Linked DNA regions of Homo sapiens: region 2 is reported to be linked to region 1. Evidence: microRNA targets listed by miRTarBase, many of them from high-throughput screens and not tested one by one. Region 1 holds a microRNA gene; the other region holds the end of a gene's coding sequence.

What was found. The annotated mature microRNA hsa-miR-377-3p reads AUCACACAAAGGCAACUUUUGU and lies in region 1 at 1,459-1,480, shown strand. An mRNA with a match to its seed (bases 2 to 7 or 8) in the 3' UTR can be bound and repressed. Matches are read on the target gene's strand: a 7mer-m8 pairs with bases 2 to 8, a 7mer-A1 pairs with bases 2 to 7 and ends in A, and an 8mer does both.
Region 2: miRTarBase lists PTPRS as a target of hsa-miR-377-3p. Seed matches in the 3' UTR shown: 7mer-m8 at 1,154-1,160.

The regions. Positions count from the first base shown.
Region 1 is chr14:101,060,636-101,064,697 of GRCh38, forward strand. It overlaps MIR377 (microRNA 377), which reads left to right and starts at 1,415; the gene lies at 1,415-1,483. It overlaps MIR496 (microRNA 496), which reads left to right; the gene lies at 1-39. MIR541 (microRNA 541) reads left to right here and starts at 3,860; the gene lies at 3,860-3,943.
Region 2 is chr19:5,203,239-5,207,292 of GRCh38, reverse strand. It overlaps PTPRS (protein tyrosine phosphatase receptor type S), which reads left to right. Exons shown (of 38, transcript NM_002850.4): 38 at 451-1,785. The coding sequence ends at 519. Among named protein-coding and RNA genes, the nearest start is that of PTPRS-AS1, 28 kb to the right of the region's middle.

The DNA.
Region 1 (4,062 bases):
ACATGGCCAATCTCCTTTCGGTACTCAATTCTTCTTGGGAAACGTCACGAGGGGAAAGCCCAGCCGGCACCTGCGCAGGGTAAGGAAGTGGATCACCTCCGCATGACAGGTGCTCTCTGTGTGACTTACATCACTTGGCTCATATCCCGGCCATCATTAGGAGGAATTCCCCGAAATGATGCTGACGTTTTAGTTGACATGGTGGTCTTCTAGTCGCATCCTTGAAGACTCGTCAGTGAATAAACCACATTTAGTCAACCTTTTTAGGTGTGAAATCATCTTGGCTGTGTGGCACACTTTAGGGAAAGGAACTCCTGGCTGAATGGAAGACATCCACATTACGCCCTCAAATACCTTATCTTCTGGGTGACCTCTGGGAAGCAAGGGGTGAAGGGGGTTTCCTCAGCAGTGAGAATTAATGTTGTTTAAAGACACATTTCCATGGCACGACTCGGTTATTCCTACTGCAAGACGAGAATTGTTAATAGCATTTATTACTACCTTATGTTGCCAGCTGTGTGCCCTTGGAAAATCCCTTCACCTATCAGCTCTCTGGGCCTCAGTCTCTTCCTCTGTAAAGCAGGGTTAACAGCGGAGTGGAAACGTGCTCTTTGTGAAGTGTCTAGACAGCGTCTGGCACGTGGCTGTAGGATAAGCATTGTTTCTGAGGATGGTCATTATATGAATGTTATGTCATCTGCACTCATTGTCCTCTCGCCACTAGAATGGAAGCTCCCTGAGGGCAGAGTCCTTGTCTGTTTTGCCTGGTGCTGTGTCGCCAGATGTGCACAGTAGGTGTGATGCTGAATGAATGAATAGGCAGCGTGACCTGTTTTCTTGGTTGAACTCTCTTTGAGGCCTCCTGGAATGGAGTGCATGGAGTACAGTCACCTGAGCCTGTGCTGTCCCTGTGACGCAGCCCCACCCACCCTCTGAGGATGCTGCGCTGGACGAGGAGTCGCCAGCCTTCAGGTCGGGTCCTCCCTCAAACCCCTGTAGGCTGGACTGAACACGGTCACATGGTTCATTGGCAGCCCCCTTCTCTGTGTGAAATCCTGCTTCAGAGACTTCCAGAGGAGATACCGGCTCTGGAGGTGGACCTTGGTGTTCCAGCCCCTCTAGGGTAGGTGACCAGGGGCTGACTCTAGCTCGGGCTGACCTGTGATGTGTGTGTGCATAGCCTCGCCCCCACTGCCTGCTCCAGGGCTACAGAAGCTGGTCCATGACCAACCATGTTCTGACCACTGCCTGGGGGGCTTCTCGGAGGTAGAGAGAGAGAGAGAGCAAGAGGGGAGAGAGCGAGCCAGCAAGCCAGCGAGCCTGCAGCTGGAGTCAGCAGGGAGGTCCCGCAGGCAATGCCGCCTTTGGTGAAGAGGCATCTCGGTGTGTTCTTGCCCGTGCTGATGTTTGACCCTTGAGCAGAGGTTGCCCTTGGTGAATTCGCTTTATTTATGTTGAATCACACAAAGGCAACTTTTGTTTGAGTATCAAATCCTGCTTGGGATGGCTTCCGGGACCCAGTGGCAAGCTCAGGGGCATCTACACCCCTCCCGTGAGCAAGAATGGACGGGGTAGACGTGGGTGGTCTGCCCTCTGCGGTCCTCTGCGGTGGATGAGAACAGATGTCGCTCAGAGAACACAAGCTTCATTCATGATGGGGGCGGGGCTCGCGGCCCGGGGAGGATGGCGTTGGTGTCGCGTCGGCTTTAGCTCTTACCCTGGACCCTGTCTCTTTACATCACCATTTTGGCTGTGTTGATCCCAAAGACATTTTGACTCCACCATTTTTTTTTCGGAAGGTATTTGACCTCGCGGATACACAAAGAGCTCACACTTGGCAGGGTCTGTGACGAGTCTGCAGCCCCAGACCCCCGTCTAGCTCACAAGCACTGTGCTTCTTTCTGCACCTTTCCTTGTCTCTATCTTTCTCTTTCTATCCCCCAACCAAACATTGTTCCCAATTTTCTCCTGGGTTATGAAACAAATAGAGGCTATCAGTATCTCATCCCATTTGTATTAAATAATACTGATAAAAATAATCAACACAAAATAAAACTAAAAACAGCTGAAACGGCACAGTGCTAAATGTGTTCAGTTGACTACAAATTGGCAGAGGAATCCAATTTTCTTGACAACATTTCAGCTGTGACATTTGACCTGGGGAAATAGCAAGCTGCCGACGTGGCAGCCATGGAAGGAAATTCACGGTGGCGGCGGTGATAAACAGTGATATTTGATGTAGACAAGAACACATTGAGGAATCAAATCTTCATGCAGATTTTTAAATGGAAAAAATTGATCCTAATGAAAATGATTTGGGGAAAATAACAAGGGAAATAAGAGAAATGAAAACAGCTCAACAGCGCGGTCAGGAAAGCTAAACAGGGAATTGGATTAGTATAATGGCATTGGCTCTGAAAAACACGTTTCTATGAATATCAGTGTTGGTACAATTCTTGTGAAGGTGGTTACATTTGTGCGTGTTTACAGTGGAGTTGGTGGGGTCAGTAGGAACCTAGGGTCAAAAAATGGGATACAGTCTCCCCCTTTATGCAGTTGATCTTTTCTTGCTGCCCCAAACCTTCCCGAGAGCTTCCCGGAAAGGTGTGCTGACTTCAGGCGTGACACACTGGTAAGGCGTCCTCCCGGGGATCTGGGTGCATGTTGTCCCCAGAGCATTCATACGTAAGTGACAGGCATCACCTGGTCTCCCTCCATCCCCACGGAGGGTTCTGGGTGAGACGCTGACTCCGGAGGGAAGCAGAAGTTCTACGGTCAGTGGGGTCTGGTCTTTCAGGACAGTTGCTTCTGTGAACTCAGAAAATCTGAGACAGCTCTTAGTTAATTTAGAAAGTTTATTTTGACAAGGTTGAGGATACACCCGTAACACAGCTTCAGGAAGTACTGTGGTCAAGGCACAGCTTGGCTTTATACATTTTAGGGAGACATGAGACATCATTCAGCACATGTAAGAAGTACATTGGTTTTGTCTGCAAAGGTGGGACAACTTGAAGCGAAGGCAGGAAGGAGGGAGCTTCCAGGTCACAGACAGGTGATACACAAATGATTACATTCTTTCGCGTTTCTCATGAGCCTTTCCAAAGGAGGCAAATCAGATACGCATCTGTCTCAGTGAGCAGAGGGATGACTTTGAATGGAATGAGAGGCAGGTTTATCCTGAGCAGCTTCCAGCTTGAGTTTTCCTTAGTGATTTTAGGGGCCCGAGATAACTTTCCTTTCACACTTCCAAGGCTATTGATGAACACACAGGCATCCAGGAACATTCTGGGGTTCAGTCCTTCCTCAGACTCTGCTGTTGATACCTTACATGGTTCCATGCTGGCCCCAAGGACGTGCCCTTCGTTGGTGCCGAATGTCATTTGGTCATAGAGGCTGAAAGTCATTCTGGAGTTGATGTTTCCAAGGTCAAAAACCTTGCTGGGGCTGTGGAAAGAGCTCGTTGTTTGCTGGCCTGCTTTGTTGGTGACCAGCATTGCACATGGCTTTCTTTTCAGATCAAACCCTACCTGGAGAATTTCCAGAAGCAACAGCACCCTCAGGAGGCGGCCTGCAGCCGGAGCCCTCTCCAGGGCAGGTGCCTGAGGGCCGCCCATGGGACAGGCCCGATTGTACCCACGGTGCATGTCATCTGTTCCACTCCTGCTGACTCCGGTGCGTTCCGGGACCACCTTGGGAGGTGATGCCTGCCCCAGGAAGGAGGCTCTGATGCAGGTCAGTGCCCATGGCTCCTGAAGGGAAGTCGTCTGTGACATCTTTTCTTTCTTTACAGCAGGCCTCGCATGGCTGGCCTCTTGCTCCACTTGTAGCAAGGCGCAGAGGGCTCTCTGAGCTCATGCCAACGTCAGGGAAAGGATTCTGCTGTCGGTCCCACTCCAAAGTTCACAGAATGGGTGGTGGGCACAGAATCTGGACTCTGCTTGTGGCATCCATCGTCTGGCCCGATGCTTGCTGGCTGCCCGCTCCAGGAGGCACCTTCTGGGTGTTCTCTGAGTCTGGGGAAGGTTGGGTTCTGAGGTCAGGGCTGCCCTGACCCTTGTGAAG
Region 2 (4,054 bases), not on the chromosome of region 1:
GCCAACATGGCGAAACCCTGTCTCTACTAAAAATACAAAAATCAGCTGGGCATGGTGGTACACGCCTGTCATCCCAGCTACTTGGGAGGCTCAGGCAGGAGAATCACTTGAACCCAGGAGACAGAGGTTGCAGGGAGCCAAGATGGCGCCACTGCACTCCAGCCTGGGCAACACAGCGAGACTCCGTCTCAAAATAAATAAAAAAGAAAAGATGAATAGGGCCTCCAGGCAGACGGGAGGAGAGGGCGTTCCGGGTGAAGAGCCTGGCTGTGTTAGGCAGAGAGGTGTGGCATAGCTCACTTCATTGTGGGAGGGCCGTGGGGGCCAAAGAGACCTTCTGCAAGAGACACGCACAAGGCTGAGGAGCTTGGCCTGCTCCTGAGGGCGATAGGGAGCCCTGGGAGGCGTTAGAGCAGCGGAGGTACTAACAGGTCACCTCTGCTCCCCCAGGATGAGTACCAGTTCTGTTACCAGGCGGCACTGGAGTACCTCGGAAGCTTTGACCACTATGCAACCTAAAGCCATGGTTCCCCCCAGGCCCGACACCACTGGCCCCGGATGCCTCTGCCCCTCCCGGGCGGACCTCCTGAGGCCTGGACCCCCAGTGGGCAGGGCAGGAGGTGGCAGCGGCAGCAGCTGTGTTTCTGCACCATTTCCGAGGACGACGCAGCCCCTCGAGCCCCCCCACCGGCCCCGGCCGCCCCAGCGACCTCCCTGGCACCGGCCGCCGCCTTCAAATACTTGGCACATTCCTCCTTTCCTTCCAATTCCAAAACCAGATTCCGGGGTGGGGGGTGGGGGGATGGTGAGCAAATAGGAGTGCTCCCCAGAACCAGAGGAGGGTGGGGCACAGACCATAGACGGACCCCTCGTCCTCCCCCAGCGGTGGTAGGGGGACCCGGGGGGCTCCTCCCCGCTCTGCAGCCTGGGGACACTGGGCTGGGACCAGAATCCAGCTTTCTTTTAAAACTCTCAGTGTAACTGTATCCCGTGACATTTCATTTTTTTTAAATAGTGTATTTTTTTTTCCATTTTTTTTTTTAAGAGAAACAAACAAAAGACTCGCCAGTCAATGACTTTCAAAGAGAACTAACTTTGGCTTATTCATATTCTGTTCAAAGACAGTCTATTTTTTCACTGTAGAAAGCGTCCTTGTGTGATAGTTACGTTCGCAAACGCGCACGCCAGGCCCATGGCTGTACCTTGGCTTTTTTTTTTTTTTTTTTTTTTTTAATTTTTCCTACCATCAGAAAGTGTGCTTTGCTCACAGAAGAATGGGATGTCCTTTTTTCTTTCTTGGCTTTTTTTTTCCCCCTTTTTGTTTCATTTTTATAAATTAAATTTTCAGACATATCAAATACAGTTCTGAGGGTAAGGTCATGGGGGAGCTCGGACCCAGTGGCGTTGGGTGCGGTTGAGGGGGACGCTGCTGTAAGAGGAGAGAGATGACAGTGGTCCTCCTCTGAGAGCCTGAGCTGTCTCCCCGTCTCCCGCCCCCAAGGAGACAGAGAGGATCCTACTTCTTCGGGGACAGTGGCTGTATGGCTGTGCTGCCCCACATCAGGGACCCTTTCCCCCTGGGACTGTGGGGCAGTTTGGGAGCAAAACCAGAAGGACAGGCCCCCCTCTACCCGCCTACCCTGAGCAAGCGAGTTGTTCCTCTTTGTACAAGGGCAGGTCTGCGGTTACTTTCAACACTGTTTATTCCAGCGGAAGCAGCCGGGTGGTTTTCCCACCCCCGTGTATGTAGATATATCGACTTTGTATTAAAGGAAGATCGTCTGACCCCGGCCCATTGTGGAGTCTTTGTTGCGCCCCTGCCTGTCCAGTTTCATCCCTGGGGTGGAGGTCGGTGGGGTCCTGGAGAGCTGATCTCGTTTCCTTGTGTGAACAGTCAGAGGAGGAGTTGGCCCAGAGAGGTGGTGGTGCTTGTCCAAGACCACACACCGCTGAGGCGGGTGGATCACAAGGTCAGGAGTTTGAGACCAGCCTGGCCAACATGGTGAAACCCAGCCTGGCCAACATGGTGAAACTCAACTCTACTAAAAATACAAAAATTAGCCAGGCGCAGTGGCGGGCGCCTGTAATCCCAGTTACTCAGGAGGCTGAGGCAGGAGAATCGCTTGAACCCAGGAGTTAGAGGTTGCAGTGAGCTGAGATCATGCCATTGCACTCCAACCTGGGTGACAGAGTAAGACTGTCTCAAAAAAAAAAAAAAAAAAAAAACTCAAAACACCGATGAAGTGGCCAGGCCAAGATTTGAACCCAAGCCCTGGTCCTGTAGGGGCTGCCTCGTGTTCTCATTCTAATAAGTGACCATGACTGAGAATTCACCATGGGCCAGACACTCTGAGATAGAAGTTACCAGCCCCTTGGCCAGGCGCGGTGGCTCACGCCTGTAATCCCAACACGTTGGGAGGCCGAGGCAGATGGATCACCTGAGATCGGGAGTTCGAGACCAGCCTAGCCGACATGGCAAAACCCTGTCTCTGCTAAAAACACAAAAATTAGCCAAGCATGGTGGCACCTGCCTGTAATCTCAGCTACTCAGGAGGCTGGAGCAGGAGAATCACTTGAACCCAGGAGGCGGAGGTTGCAGTGAGCTGAGATCATGCCATTGCACTCCAGCCTGGGCGACAGAATGAGACTCCCATCTCCAAAAAAAAAAAAAAAAAAAAAAAAATCCCCATTTACATATTAGGAAACTGAGGCTCAGGGAGGGGCACACAATGAGTTTGAGGTGGAGCTGGGATTCGTACCCCAGCCCATCTCACCCGCAGCCCTGAGCATCACACGGTGCTGCCTTCTCGAAGTGCCCTGGGGAAGAACTGAGTCCGTGGAGGGAAGCAACAGGTTGGGGACACTCTGCTCCACCCCTAGGCCACTCAATGAGCAGATCCATGCACTGAGCCAGAATCACATCCCTGGGGATGGAGAGTGAGCCATTTTGTATCTATACCCTTGCCTGAGTCACTTCTTGCTTGGGCATAGAAGCCACCCACAGGAGCCAGAGATAGGATGAAAGAGCCCCCTATGACCTCAGGGAAGTTCCAGGAATGAGAAGGGGTGATCTTAGTGACACCAGGGACCCAGCTCAGGGAAGAATAGGACTATGTCTCTTAGAAACCAACAGATCAAGGCCGGGCGCAGTGGCTCACGCCTATAATCCCAGCACTTTGGGAGGCTGAGGCGGGCAGATCACGAGGTCAGGAGATGGAGACCATCCTGGCCAACATGGTGAAACACCGTCTCTACTAAAAGTACAAAAAACTAGCCGGGCATGGTGGCAGGAGCCTGTATTCTCAGCTACTTGGGAGGCTGAGGCAGGAGAATCCCTTGAACCTGGGAGGCAGAGGTTGCAGTGAGCCAAGACCATACCACTGTACTCCAGCCTGGGTGACAGAGCAAGACTCCGTCTCAAAAAAAAAAAAAAAAAAAAAAAAAAAGAAGCAACAGATCAGGTAGTCAAAAAAATACAGATGTGACTAACATCATTAATAAGCTTGGCCAAAAATATTTAACAAACCCTATTATCCCCTCCTACTCTAACATTCTCAAACGCACATGGAACATTTGTGAAAATTAACAGAGATCGGCTGGGTGCAGTGGCTCACGCCTGTAATCTTAGCACTTTGGGAGGCCGAGGCAGGAGGATTACCTGAAGTCAGGAGTTCAAGACCAGCTTGGCCAACATGGTGAAACCCCCCGTCTCTACTAAAAATAAAAAACATTAGCTGGGTATGGTGGCACACGCTTGTAATCCCAGCTACTCAGTGGGCTGAGGCAGGAGAATCGCTTGAACCCAGGAGGAAGGAGGTTGCGGTGAGCTGAGATCGCGCCTCTACACCCCAGCCCAGGTGACAGAGCAAGACTTCATCTCAAAAAAACAAACAAAAAATATTAACAGAGATCTTCACAAATTCCAAGAAACAAATATTAGATGAGGTATCCTGATCTTGGCTCTGAAGAGTAATTAGCCTCCCCTGGAAGGGGGAGGGAAATTTTAAAATACTTTTTTTGGCGGGGAGGTGGGTGGGGGACAGAGTCTCGCTCT